Linked DNA regions of Homo sapiens. The protein of the gene in region 2 interacts with the protein of the main gene of each other region in a pairwise test. Each region holds a gene or a part of one and is shown on either strand. Other genes may lie near its edges.

Region 1 (3,500 bases), on a different chromosome or scaffold from region 2:
AAAGTTTAAATTGTCCTTATGAGATGCACATATTTAAACATCTCAGAAGGGTGATGTAAACTTTGAGAAGAAATGTTTCTAGATAGACATTTCGGAAGTGCTGAGAGTTCAAAGAATCAATAGGGAACTAGATTCTTTTTTTTTTTTCCTTTTTTTTTGAGACAGAGTCTCACTCTGCTGCCCAGGCTGGAGTGCAGTGGCATGACCTCAGCTCACTGTAACCTCTGCCTCCTGGGTTCAAGCGATTCTCCTGCCTCAGCCTCCCAAGTAGCTGGGATTACAGGCATCCACCACCAAACCCGGCTAATTTTTTGTATTTTTAGTAGAGACGGGGTATCACCATTTTGGCCAGGGTGGTCTTGAACGCCTGACCTAAGGTGATCCACCCACCTTTGCCTCCCAAAGTGCTAGGATTACAGCTGTGAGCCACCGCACCCAGCCAGGTAGATTCTTTACTACTGGATTTGCTATTTTACTTCAGCATGTGTGCACACTTTACCGTAGCTAAACCCAGCTGTGGCTGGTAAACAACTGCCCATCAGCCCAACTGGATATCGGAGACGAGTCATGAGACCTAAGGAGAAAGAGAAATCAATATTTCAAGCCTAGTTGCTAATATAGAAGAAAGAATGAAATATTCTAGAAGACAGTACCATTCTTTAAATAATTAGACAAACAAAATTCATTCTACCAGTTAGTCAGCAGTTTGCTTATTTTCCCACATTTTCCAAAAAAAAATATATACTCATTGTATACAATTTAAAGAATCTAAGGAAGTATAAAGATGACCCTAAAAAATCCCTCACAAAATCTTAGTATTCACAGATAGATTGTTATCATCTTGGTGAATATTTTTGCAAAAATCACTATGTGCATAATTGAAAACATGAACACATCCAATATATTTTGCAGAAATATAAATATTTTGTTAAAAGCTTTTTGCACTATGCACGTAATTGATATATGTCATTGACTATAAACAGAGCTTAAATTTATTTCCAAGATTTCGCTATTATAAAATATGCCATATGTCCTTGAACATACATTTGTCTGTACTTCTCAAATTATCACCTTATAAAATGTGATTTCCAGGTCAAAGCGTGTCCAGAAAGGATGTACTAATTTATTCAACCACCAACGGTGTTGAAGTGTGCCCATTTTGTATAATCTTTGTTTATTTGATTTTTAATAGCATGGTAGAGTAAATGAGACTTCATTTAATTGGGTTAACATATAGATTTCTATACATCAAATGTCTCTTTTTTTCCTTTCAGTGACCCACTTAGGCATATACCTTACGTTTCAACTTAGTTTAATAATCATTTATTATTTATTTGTTCAGCTAATATTTATTAAAAGCCTGGTATGCGCTTTCAATAAAAGCTTTCAATAAAACACTATCTAGATGTTGGGAGACAGTAGGGAACAAGACTGATGATTCGGTCTTGCTCTCATGATTACATTCTAGTGAGAGGAAGAGAAAATAACAAGGGCATGCACACACAAGAAAAAGTAGATAATGATGATTAAGTGCAAGGCAGACCGGATAACATATAATTACTTTAGAGTGGGTGCTCAGGGAAGGCCTTTCAGACAAGATGACAGCTACGCTGACGTTGATTGATGAAGAGCCTTCCAGGTAGATGGAACAGCATGTGTAAATGCTGGAAGACAGAAACGAGCTTGACCAGTGTAAGAACAAAAAGAAGCACATATTAAGTGCCTATTGTGTGCAAGGCACTCTTCTAGGTAGATTCCCAAAGATTCCAGCAGATTCCAAGATGAGTAAGATGAGGACTCTGCCCACAGGGAGCTCTATCTCAGTGAGAGAAGACAGGCAGAGAGAGGCCATTCTAATGTGAAAGGAATAAGTATTCTGCTGGAGATGCATATAGGGTGCCTTGGGATGTAGAAAAAGAGCACTTGACACATTGTTGGACTCGAAGAATTCTTTGGGAGGAAATGACTGAGATGAAACTAACACATGGAGTTAACCCATGGGGAGAAACTATGAAGGACTTTCTAAGCAGAGGTAACGCATGAGATGAAACTTAGAAATGTGAAGCATGATGGTGGGTACTTGAGCAAAACTCAGGAGGTAGAGCCAGACAAATTGCACTGCAGAGGTAAGCAGTATTCTGGGTATGATGGGACTCATAAGCCACGCTAGGAAGCATTACATTTTCCTGCAGGTGAGAGGAAGCTATTGAAAAGTCCCAAGTAGGAGGGCACAGTCAGATTTACATTTCTTTTTCTTTTCTTTTTTTTTTTTGAGATGGAGTTTCACTCTTGTTGCCCAGGCTGGAGTGCAATGGTGTGATCTTGGATCACTGCAACCTCCGCCTCTCAGGTTCAAGCGATTCTCCTGCCTCAGCCTCTCGAGTAGGTGAGATTACAGGCATGCGCCACCATGACTGGATAATTTTGTATTTTTAGTAGAGATGGGGTTTCACCATGTTGGCCAGGCTGGTCTTAAACTCCTGACCTCAGGTGATCCACCCACCTTGGCCTCCCAAAGTGTTGTAATTACAGGCATGAGCCACTGCACCCAGCCAGATTTACATTTCTGATAGATCACTCTGGTACTAGCAGAATGGATTAAGGGGAAATCAACATTGGAGGCAATAAGACCAGTTAAGAGGCTACTGCAGTTGTCCAAGTGAGCAATGATCAGGGCAGCACTAGAAGGTAGGGAGAGGCAGGGATCTATAGGAGACACATTTAGGATATGAAATCAATTGCATTTGATAATTAATCAGAAGTGAGCTATTAAGAAGCATCTATTTAATTCCTATGCTTCCAACCCCTACAAGGGGCTGGATGATGCTAGTATTATCTGAGAGAGAGAAAAGAAAGAGGACATTTGGAGGGAGAGTAATGGTGTAAGATGAAGCATCCTACTTCATCAGTGAAGTTCAGGGCCTGCGGGATTGCAAGTGCCTTTGTCTACCAGACAGAAGATTATGCAAAGGGAGATGCCTAAGGTGAGAAGAGTAGTGATCAGGGACGGATTCTGGAGGAAAACCAATATTTAAGGGAAGAATAGAAGTAGGGCACATTGGGAAGATCCATTAGGAACTATTGAGTTAGAGAAGGCCAAAAAGGGGTGGTGTCAAACATCGAAGGAGCAACAAGTGACACTGCCAAATGTAGCAGAGAGGACCTGAACACATGAGAACTAGAAAGCACCACTGTACTGTCAATATAGGGGCCACTGGTCAAATATGGAGTGTTGAAAGCAGAAGACAGATCATAGATGTTTAAAAAGTAAATGGAAAGTGAGAGAGTGGAGACAATGGATGTGGACACATTTTTCCAAAAGTGTGACTTACAAGAGCAATGTGTAAAGGGAGAAAGAGTTAGGGCAGCAGGAGGAGAGTTGTTTTTGTTTTTAGGATAAGAAAGTCTTAAGCATGTTTATAGGGTTAAAAGCTAAAGGGAGACAGTCAGAAGAATGGAAGAGATACAGGAGAGAAAGGAACAGTGGATGGCAGGTAAGG
Region 2 (3,500 bases):
CGTCCTGATATTTTTAAATCCTTTTAGAATTACACAAATGCATGATAACTGTAAATGTATTCAAATTTTATAGGAGTATATAATATAGTGATTAAACATGACTTTTCCAGAAGCTTAGGAAGGAAGGGAGAAATTAGGACAATTTTATGATGATTTTATTCTCAGTTTTCAAAACAGGAAAATGGGCTCAAGGTCGTAGCTGCCTGAGGTAGTTCCGACAAGGCCAACAGTCAAGCAAGAATACATCTGTGCCCAAGCCTCGTCCTCCTTTTAATTAAGCCCAAGGGAATATTGTACTTTTTTGCAGCAAGCCTAGCAGAGCATCCAGGTATTTGGAATGGCTCCGTAATGTCATTACTGATTTTCTGTCTTACAAAATCCTCGGCCCACTGTAGAGGCCTTCCGCTCCTTGGAAGGACCGTGCCTTCACTTCCTTCTTACCTATACCTGTCAACACACCTGCACAGATTTGGAACAAGGCGCAGTTCCCCAGGAGCACATGCCAGGCTCTCTCCTGTCTGGAACAGCTCGACTCTTTCCTGCCCAACTAACCCTGCCACCAGTATAAATCAGACACCCCATTTGTCCTTCTATACTTGGCTCAAGGCCACCTCTGTGCATCTTTCATAATCCACGTGTCCAGGTGGCCGTGGACACTCCTTCCTCCATGTTCCTCCCTCTGTGGGTACCTGCATCCTAACACATGTGCATCGCTGTGCCTATTCACGCCTGCCTGTTCCGTAATACTATCCTCTCCTCCTTCAGAGAGGGTGTCCGTCAGGCATCACAGCCCTGCAGCTAGCACCTACAAGGCAACTCCCCGTGTTCAGGAGCTTGGGAAGGGAGAGAGAACGTGATGGTGGGTCATGTGTCCTCCTAATACTCACCTTGTGAGGCCGGTGCTTCTCATGAACATGAAGAATGTGGATCCGAAGCCGGTCCCGCTTCTCAAAGGATCGTTTGCAGAGAGAACAGGGAAATTTCCTATCGCCCTTGTCCACACAGGGGGTGTACTTGAGGTGCTTATCTCTGTAATATTTGTAGGTAAATACCTTCCCACATCTTTCACATCTGTAGCCTTCTGCAGACTCTGTCAAACACAGCAAACACAATGTCTCTTCAGTTACTTCCCTCCCTAGTTCCTTCAAGAGGATATTTATTTATTTATTTATTTTTAGCCAAGAATTCTTTGGCTACTTCAAGAGGAATTTTCTTTTTTTGAGACAGAATCTTGCTGTATTGCCCAGTCTGTAGTGCAGTGGCACGATCTTGGCTCACTGCAACCTCTGCCTCCCAGGTTCAAGCGATTCTCCTGCCTCAGCCTCCCAAGTAGCTGGGATTACAGGTGCCCACTACCACGCCTGGCTAATTTTTGTATTTTTAGTAGAAACAGGGTTTCATCATGTTGGCCAGGCTGGTCTAGAACTCCTGACCTCAGGTGATCAGCCCCTCTTGGCCTCCCAAAGTGCTAGGATTACATGCGTGAGCCACTGTGCCTGGTCAAGAGAATTTTCTTTTCTTTTCTTTTTTTTTTTTTGAGATGGAGTCTTGCTCTGTCACCCAGGCTGGAGTGCAGGGGTGTGATCTCGGCTCACTGCAACCTCCACCTCCCGGGTTCAAGTGATTCTCCTGCCTCAGCCTCCCAAGTAGCTGGGACTACAGGCACACACCACCACGCCCAGCTAATTTTTGTATTTTTAGTAGAGGTGGGGTTTCACCATCTTGGCCAGGACAGTCTTGATCTCTTGATCTTGTGATCCACCTGCCTCGGCCTCCCAAAGTGCTGGGATTACAGGCATGAGCCACCATGCCCGGCCGCCAAGAGAATTTTTAAAAACCTTTTTATTACAGAAAAATGTAAACATACCAAAGTGAAAATAATAGTGTAATAAACCCTCATGTGCCAAACACCAAGCTTTGACCAACTCGTAACTAATTTTGTTTTCATTTATATCACCGCTCGCCATAGTAGATTATTTTAATACTAATTCATCCTTTGACTCAAAAACATCTAACCGTAATCTTTAGAAGATGACATATTTTTAAAAAGCATAATTGTGACCAGGCAAAGTGGCTCACGCCTATAATCCCAGCACTTTGGGAAGCTGAGGCAGGTGGATCACCTGAGGTCAGGGGTTCAAAACCAGCCTGGCCAACATGGTGAAATCCCGTCTGTACTAAAAATACAAAATTAGCCAGGCGTGGTGGTGCCTGCCTGTAATCCCAGCTACTTGGGAGGCTGAGGCAGGAGAATCACTTGAACCTGGGAGGCGCAGGTTGCAGTGAGCCAAGATTGCACCACTGCACTCCAGCCTGGGCAACAACAGCAAAACTCCATCTCAAAAAAAAAAAAAAAAGCATAATTGTGCCAGGTGCAGTGGCTCACGCCTATAATCCCAACACTCTGGGAAGCTGAAGTGGACAGATCGCTTGAGCCCAGGAGTTTGAGACCAGCCTGGGCAACATAGTAAGACCCCATCTCTACAAAAAAATAATAAAAATTATCTGGGCATGATAGCACACGCCTTTAGTCCCAGAGGCCGAGATGGGAGGATCACCTGAGCCTGGGGAAGTTAGTTGAGGCTGCAATGAGCAGTGATTGAGCCACTGCACTCCAGCCTGGGCAACAGAGCAACACTTTGTCTCGAAAAAAAAAAAAAAACATAACCATAATGTCATTGTCACATTGTCATACCTAAACGATTAACTCTTATTCTTTTATAGAAACATATATGTACTTATATATGCACATTTATATACACACATATATATTTGTTTAATTACTTTCTGGTCAGTCCATTCAAATTAGGCTTCAAACAAAGTCTACATGTTGTATATGGTTGCTATGTCTCTTAAATATCTTAACCTATAGGCTCTCTTTCCCTTTTGTTCCTTGATATGTACTGTTGAAGAGACCATTCCACCAGCCCCATTTAAGGGCAGTGCAACCCTGCAGCTCTTGAACACATTCCTGCCTGGCACTTGTTACAAGGTTAATACACTGAGGCACTGAGGCCGACCTATTTCTCTTTGTGCCTTTAAGATCAGCCTGAGTTACAAGCTCAGAGCAGTCACCAGGACACCCGCAGCTCACAGTGCTGTTCTATTCTACACAATTCAAGGGACCTTCTTAGTTTATACTTCATTACTCAAAACTTGTGGCAGATTCCAGAGCTAGAATCTTTATGTATAGAGTAAGGTTGAAAGCATCTTGACTTCCCTAATGCACAGGGTTACCGTGATGACTAATTTAATTCTAACACTTACCGAGTCTTACCAATGTGAGTGATACTATCACTGAATGGCAGACAAGACTGAGAGGTAAATCTGTTTTTATCAATGGAGGAGGGAGGAGGAGAGAAGTTAGAGAGGGTGCAGCTAGACTCTAGCAAAGCAGGTCCCACGTCCAGGGGTGTCTATGTGTTGGGGGAAGGCGAGAGAACAGGGGCCACCTACAAAAGCATCCCTGCAGAGGACACTCTGGATCCCAGAGGATAAAG
Region 3 (3,500 bases), on a different chromosome or scaffold from region 2:
CAGGAGATGAGGAGGGCACAGACAGTGTGTATGCGAGTAGCTCCCACCTCTCTGGATGCTCACTTCTGCAGGGTTCGAGGATTTGCATTAGGAAACCCTGAGAGGTGGTCTGGTGCAGCTCTCCCCATCTTCAGCAAGGTGAAAGGAACATCCATAACTAGGAATGTGGCCTTTGAGTGCTGGCCAGAAGCCCAGCTCAGCCACTCACAGGTGGCATGTGCAGAATACAGACCCAGAGTTATCTGATTCCAGTGCCTCATGTACTTTCCCACCCAACTCCAGCCCCTCCTCCCACTGAGCCAAGCATACCACAGTGGGGAAAGGGAGAGGATACAGTAAAGTCCTCCACCATTTGGCAATTTGATGGATATGGAAATTTTACAACACTAGGTTGGGCATGGTGGCTCATGCCTATAATCCCAGCACTTTGGGAGGCCAAGGTGGGAGAATTGCTTGAGGCCAGGAATTTGAGACCAGCCTGGGCAACATAGTGGGACTTCGTCACTACAAAAAAAATTAAAAATTAGGCCAGGCACGGAGGCTCACGCCTGTAATCCCAGCACTTTGGGAGGCCAAGGCAGGCGAATCGCCTGAGGTCGGAAGTTTGAGATCAGCCTGGCTAACATGGTGAAACCCCTTCTCTACTAAAAATACAAAATAAGCAGGGCATGGTAGTGCACGCCTGTAATCCCAGCTACTCAGGAGGCTGAGGCAGGAGAATCGCTTGAACTCAAGAGGCGGAGGTTGCAGTAAGCCAGGATCACACCACTGCACTCCAGCCTGGGCAAAAGAGTACAACACTGTCTCCAAAAAAAAAAAAAAAAAAATTTAAATTAGCCAGACATGGTGGCATGCACCTGTAGTCTCAGCTACTTGGGAGGCTGGGGCAGGAGGATCACTTGAGCCTGAAAGTCATGGTGCAGTGATCATGCCACTGCACTCCAGCCTAGGTGAGAGAGCAAGACCCTGAGGAAGGAAGAAAGGAAAGAAGCAAGGAAGGAAAAAGGGGAGGGGGGACGAAAGAAGGGAGGGGAAAGGAATGGAGGAGAGGGGAGGGGGAAGGAAGGAGGAAGAAAGAAAGAAGGAAAGAAGGACCAGGCACAGTGGCTCACGCCTGTAATCCCAGCACTTTGGGAGGCCAAGGCAGGGCAGATCACTTGAGGTCACTCTGTTTTGAGTTTCTCAGTGTAGCTCCCCATTGCCATTTGACAGCAGCAAGCTCATCTGGATTCTACTCCGCACCCTCTCACGGCCTTACTTAGGATCTCAATTATCTTGCAGTGTCACTCTCAAAAGTCCATCTCTTGGCAGCCCTTCAGTGAAGCCAAACAGAGTGGTCACAAGCCTAATCAGGCCTGTATTTAAAACAAGTAATCAGGTCAGGCACAGTGGCTCATGCCTGGAATCCCAGCACTTTGGGAGGCCAAGGTGGGTAGATAACCTGAGGTCAGGAGTTCGAGACCAGTCTGACCAACATGGTGAAACCCCATCTCTACTAAAAATACAAAAATGAGCTGGGATGGTGGCAGGCACCTGTAATCCCAGCCACTTGGGAGGCTGATGCAGGAGAATCACTTGAACCCAGAGGTAGAGGTTGCAGTGAGCTGAGATCACACCATTGCACTCCAGCCTGGTAGACAAAAGCAAGACTCCATCTCAAAAAAGGAAATAAATAAATAAACATTGATTTTCTTCATGATGTCTACAATTATTCCAAAATATTAAATTAGCCAGGAACAGTGGCTCGTGCCTATTATCCAAGCACTTTGTGAGGCTGAGGCGGGAGGATCCCTTAAGGCCAGGAGATCAAGGCTGCAGTGAGCTATAATTGCACCAGTGCACTCCAGTTTAGGCAACAGAAGAAGACCTTGTCTCCAACAGTAAATAAAATAAAAATTAAATTGTAATATCCCTTGAAAGTAAACAGAAGAAATCCTCTATTTCAGGCAGTAAATATGAGGCAGAGAGTAGATGTAAGGGATGCTCCCAAAACTGGGCACTCTGTTAATGACAAAACAGAGACCAGAATCCACATTCCCAACACTCAGTTCAGCGACAGACCCACAAAACCATTTGGTTTTTTCAAAAACACTGAATTTTCCCAAAATAAAACCCAAACTATCACTAACAGATGTTTTAGATGGTCAGTCTTCATCCTTGTCTTCATTCAATGCTCATTCCTCCTTTCACTGCAAAAACAAAAGGTGGCTAAAAGAGTATTCCAGGGAGATCCTGCAACAGAGTTGAACTTCACCTTCTCCTTGGTTGTTAATAAGTTTTCTTTGACACAAAAAAGTACAAGAAAGATAGGCTATGCTTGCTCATAAATTTCAGGCAGATGCAAACCCTGTTCCCAGGCTCAACTGGCCAGCTCTATTTTTTGTTAGAGATGAACACAGCTCCTGTACCTCTACATTTAGACCCAAGAGTTTCCCTATTAGGACACATGAAAAGAGCCAAAAGACATGTTTCTCTTTTTCATCAAAATTAAAATCCCCACATGCAAAGGCACCCTTTGTTTCCAAACCCCTTTCCTCCAGGGTCCCACTGTTTCAAATCTGTGTGGTCTATTAAATGCTAAATCATCTGACAGATTTCTTCTGGGGAGACTGTAGTTTCCAGGGCAACATCCAAACACATATATGTCTTTTTTTGTTTGTTTGTTTGTTTGTTTTAAGTTTTTGTTGTTCTCAACCTGAGCTGGCCTGAGCAAAACTGTTAGGTGTAGAGGATTGGAACAGAGAACAGGGACAGTCTTCCCAGAGTCCCAGAAGTACGGGTCGGAGGCTGGACTGCCCAAGGAGTTCCTGGACCAGTAATCCCCAGAGAAACAGCATTTAGCTCAAGTAACAGCCTCTAGCTCAAGCTACCAGTTCTGTCCCCCATCTCCACAGAAAACGGATTGATACAGTTTGGCTTTGTGTCCCTACCCAAATCTCATCTCAAATTGTAATCCCCAGGTGTTGAGAAAGGGACCTGTTGAGAGGTGATTGGCTCATGGGGGCAGTTTCCCCCAGGCTATTCTCGTGATAGTGAGTGAGTTCTCACCAGATCTGACAGTTTCATAAGAGGATCTTCGCCCTTCACTTCCTTCACAAGCTCTCTCACCTGCTGCCATTAAGACATGCCTTCTTCCCCTTCCACCATGATTATAAGTTTCCTGAGGCCTCCCCAGCCATGTGCAGCTGTGAGTCAGTTAAACCTCTTTTCTTTGTAAATTACCCAGTCTTGGGCAGTTCTTTATAGCAGTGTGAGAACAGACTAATACACAAACCAAAAAAAAATTCATAGAAAGGGGCATGTCTGTGCTGAATGGAACTGCTCATTACAGAAGACCAGACATCTATCAGAAAAACCTGCCCAATGCCGTGGCTAATTCTAAAACTAAAGATTAACCCAGCAAAGCCACAACATACTTCCAACTCTTGGCAGTTCCAGATGAGGTCAGCATTTAAAAATGGCAGCCCCAACCCCTAGCAGGAGCACAGCGGTAATACAGA
Region 4 (2,799 bases), on a different chromosome or scaffold from region 2:
TATTAAAAGAAGTTTGACAGTTGATGGCAGAGTAACAGAATACGTTAAAGTCTTATATTCCAAATTTTGTACAATAGGGAAAGTTGAGAGGGATATTGCTAAACTAGAAAGAAACTAGAAAGTATCCCCTTTGCAAAATGAGAAACCTAGAAAGCCAACCTAGGAAACTCATTGTTGTACTTATCAGCTAGAGGAAAAGGTAAAACAGTTGATTACTCTGAAATATGTGAAGAGATGATGTTATGTTCATCATACTGGGTGTCCATGCTGCACATGGAATTCAATGAGGTAAACTTGGCCTAACTCCAGCTGGTAGCAAGTACCATAGCTTGAGTTTGAACCCAGGTCCTCTCGAGCTGTTTCTACCTTGTGTCACTATCAATCACTCTGCCTTTTAATCCAGGAACATTAAATTTTTCATACCACTTTCATTCATTTTGGTTTACTATCAGGATACGGTACCTAGGGAAGAGCATGCTTGAGGTAGCTAAGAGGTAGAGTTATTGTACCAAGATGAGTTGTTTAATATGAAAGAGACTGGATACAACTGTTTCACAAAAAGATGTATTTTCATTCATGAGTATTTACATTTTTCATATTTGTTTAAAGAATATCATATAACTGATACCTTCTGAAATGTTTCATGCTTTTAAACTCTTCTATTTACACTTATCTGACATGGAATTAAAACTAAAATGGTCAAATACCATGATAATAGAAAGCAACCAGCCAACATAGCTAGGTCTTCTCTTAAATTTGCTGATCAACATTAGCAGTAGTTACCTTAATAATAAATTATTCATTTTAAAATCAGTAGTAACTTTAGACAATTCATAAATAAGTGTGCTCTGTGCAATTTACACGTTTAATATCCTGTGGATACTAAAAGCTTGTATATTGTCAGATTTGCACATTATTACTTTATCAAAAACAGTAAGCTTTCCCAAAGATGAAGCTGGGGAAACTTGAAAAGATATTCTAAAGGTTCTCTGGAGAGTTATCAAAGCTCTGCCTGCTTTACAGGAGGAGGTTCCAATTTACGCGAGAGGGCAGTTAAAATCTGGTTGAATTTCTCATATCTCTCTGTCTGATTGACTTGTGCACCTTTGCTGCCCCATAGCAATCGCATTTGAAATTCAGTCTTGCAGATTTCATTCATTTCTTCATCTGGTTGAAAACCTAATGAAACAAAATAAACAAAAAGTTACTTCAGTTCTGCCTAAGATGTGTTAAAAATAGACTGAAAGCACCAGGCGCGGTGGCTCACGCCTGTAATCCCAGCACTTTGGGAGGCCGAGGTGGGTGGATCACAAGATCAGGAGATCGAGACCATCCTGGCTAACACAGTGAAATCCCGTCTCTACTAAAAAAATACAAAAAATTAGCCAGGCGTGGTGGCGAGCGCCTGTAGTCCCAGCTACTCGGGAGGCTGAGGCAGGAGAATGGCGTGAACCCGGGAGGTGGAGCTTGCAGTGAGCGAGACTGCGCCACTGCACTGCAGCCTGGGTGACAAGCGAGACTCCATCTCAAAAAAAAAAAAAAAAAAAAAAATAGACTGAAAGCTTGCTTAAAGTAGCATCAAAATGAACATCTTCTCTCTCTCAGAACTTTAAAAAATGTCCCCAAAGAAAAATATAGGATCTGTTCTATATAAGGGAGAGCAGAGCCCCACCCTGCAGAACCTAAGCACCTTCAGAGAAGAAATAACAGGTAAACTCATTAAAAAACAATAGAGTGAAATTGGTTTGTACAAACCACTGTGGGAAGTAGTGCTGTGGGAAGGAGGGTTCATTGTACCTAGGAGTTCGTTACTTGTTTTTACCAACTTTACTGATGTATAGTTTACATGTCATATGATTCACCTGTTTTTGGCTGTGGAGTTTGATTTATGATGGTAAGTTTTTACATAAACCATTACCACCAGTCTTAGAACACTTCCATCACCTTAGTACCTCTTTGCAGTCAATTCCTGTTCCTACTGCAGACCTCAGTCAACCACTGATCTGCTTTCTGTTGCTACTGTTTTGCCTTTTCTAGAAATATGGGATAAATGGAATCATCCACTATGAACTTTTTAATGTGTGACTTCTTTCACTTAGCATGATGTTTTTGAGATTATTCCATATGTTGCATGCTAATCATTCTTACTGATCAATATTCAGTTTTATGGACATGCCATTGTTTTTGTTTATCCATTCACCAATTGATGACATTTGGATTGCTTCTGGCTGCTATGAGTAAGTGGTTGTGAACACTTGTGTACAAATCTTGTGTGGACATGTGTTTTCATTTCTCTAGGAAAGGAATTATTGGGTCATACAATCAGTATATGTTTACTTTTAAAGAAACTATTAAACTCTATTCCAAAATGGCTGTATCATTTTATATTCACAGCAGTAACATATGAAGACTCCAGTTTTTCCACATGCTGCCAACCCTTAGTTTTATCATTTTTTATTTTTATTTTTTTGAGAAGGAGTCTCGCTGTGTTGCCCAGGCTGGAGTGCAGTGGCACGATCCTGGCTCACCACAACCTCTACCTCTCGGGTTCAAGCAATTCTCCTGCCTCAGCCTCCCAAGTAGCTGGGACTACAGGTGTGTGCTACCACGCCTGGCTAATTTTTTGTATTTTCAGTAGAGACGGGGTTTTGCCATGTTGGCCAGGCTGGTCTCGAACTTTTGACCTCAGGTGATCCACCCGCCTCGACCTCCCAAAGTGCTGGGATTACAGACATTAGCCACCGTGCCTGGCCTATCATTCTTTTTAGTTGTAGCCATTCTAGATAGTGTGGTGGTATC

Evidence for each region. Proteins that work in one complex are often made in the same cells at the same time.
Region 1: the proteins of PRDM14 (region 2) and TXK interact in binary tests that used the Homo sapiens proteins (3 or more experiments, as listed by UniProt).
Region 3: the proteins of PRDM14 (region 2) and CHEK2 interact in a two-hybrid assay, tested with the Homo sapiens proteins (one large-scale study listed by BioGRID and IntAct).
Region 4: the proteins of PRDM14 (region 2) and BCAR3 interact in a two-hybrid assay, tested with the Homo sapiens proteins (one large-scale study listed by BioGRID and IntAct).

What each region holds. Positions count from the first base shown.
Region 1 is NC_000004.12:48,089,251-48,092,750, forward strand, and holds part of TXK (tyrosine-protein kinase TXK), read right to left. Parts: intron 575-3,500; coding exon 500-574; exon of another isoform or gene 391-499; intron 1-390. UniProt on the Homo sapiens protein: Non-receptor tyrosine kinase that plays a redundant role with ITK in regulation of the adaptive immune response. Regulates the development, function and differentiation of conventional T-cells and nonconventional NKT-cells.
Region 2 is NC_000008.11:70,057,753-70,061,252, forward strand, and holds part of PRDM14 (PR domain zinc finger protein 14), read right to left. Parts: intron 1,091-3,500; coding exon 888-1,090; intron 1-887. UniProt on the Homo sapiens protein: Transcription factor that has both positive and negative roles on transcription. Required for the maintenance of embryonic stem cell identity and the reacquisition of pluripotency in somatic cells.
Region 3 is NC_000022.11:28,689,821-28,693,320, forward strand, and holds part of CHEK2 (serine/threonine-protein kinase Chk2), read right to left. Parts: intron 1-3,500. UniProt on the Homo sapiens protein: Serine/threonine-protein kinase which is required for checkpoint-mediated cell cycle arrest, activation of DNA repair and apoptosis in response to the presence of DNA double-strand breaks.
Region 4 is NC_000001.11:93,561,241-93,564,039, forward strand, and holds the end of BCAR3 (breast cancer anti-estrogen resistance protein 3), read right to left. Parts: intron 1,180-2,799; coding exon 1,001-1,179; 3' UTR 501-1,000; downstream 1-500. UniProt on the Homo sapiens protein: Acts as an adapter protein downstream of several growth factor receptors to promote cell proliferation, migration, and redistribution of actin fibers.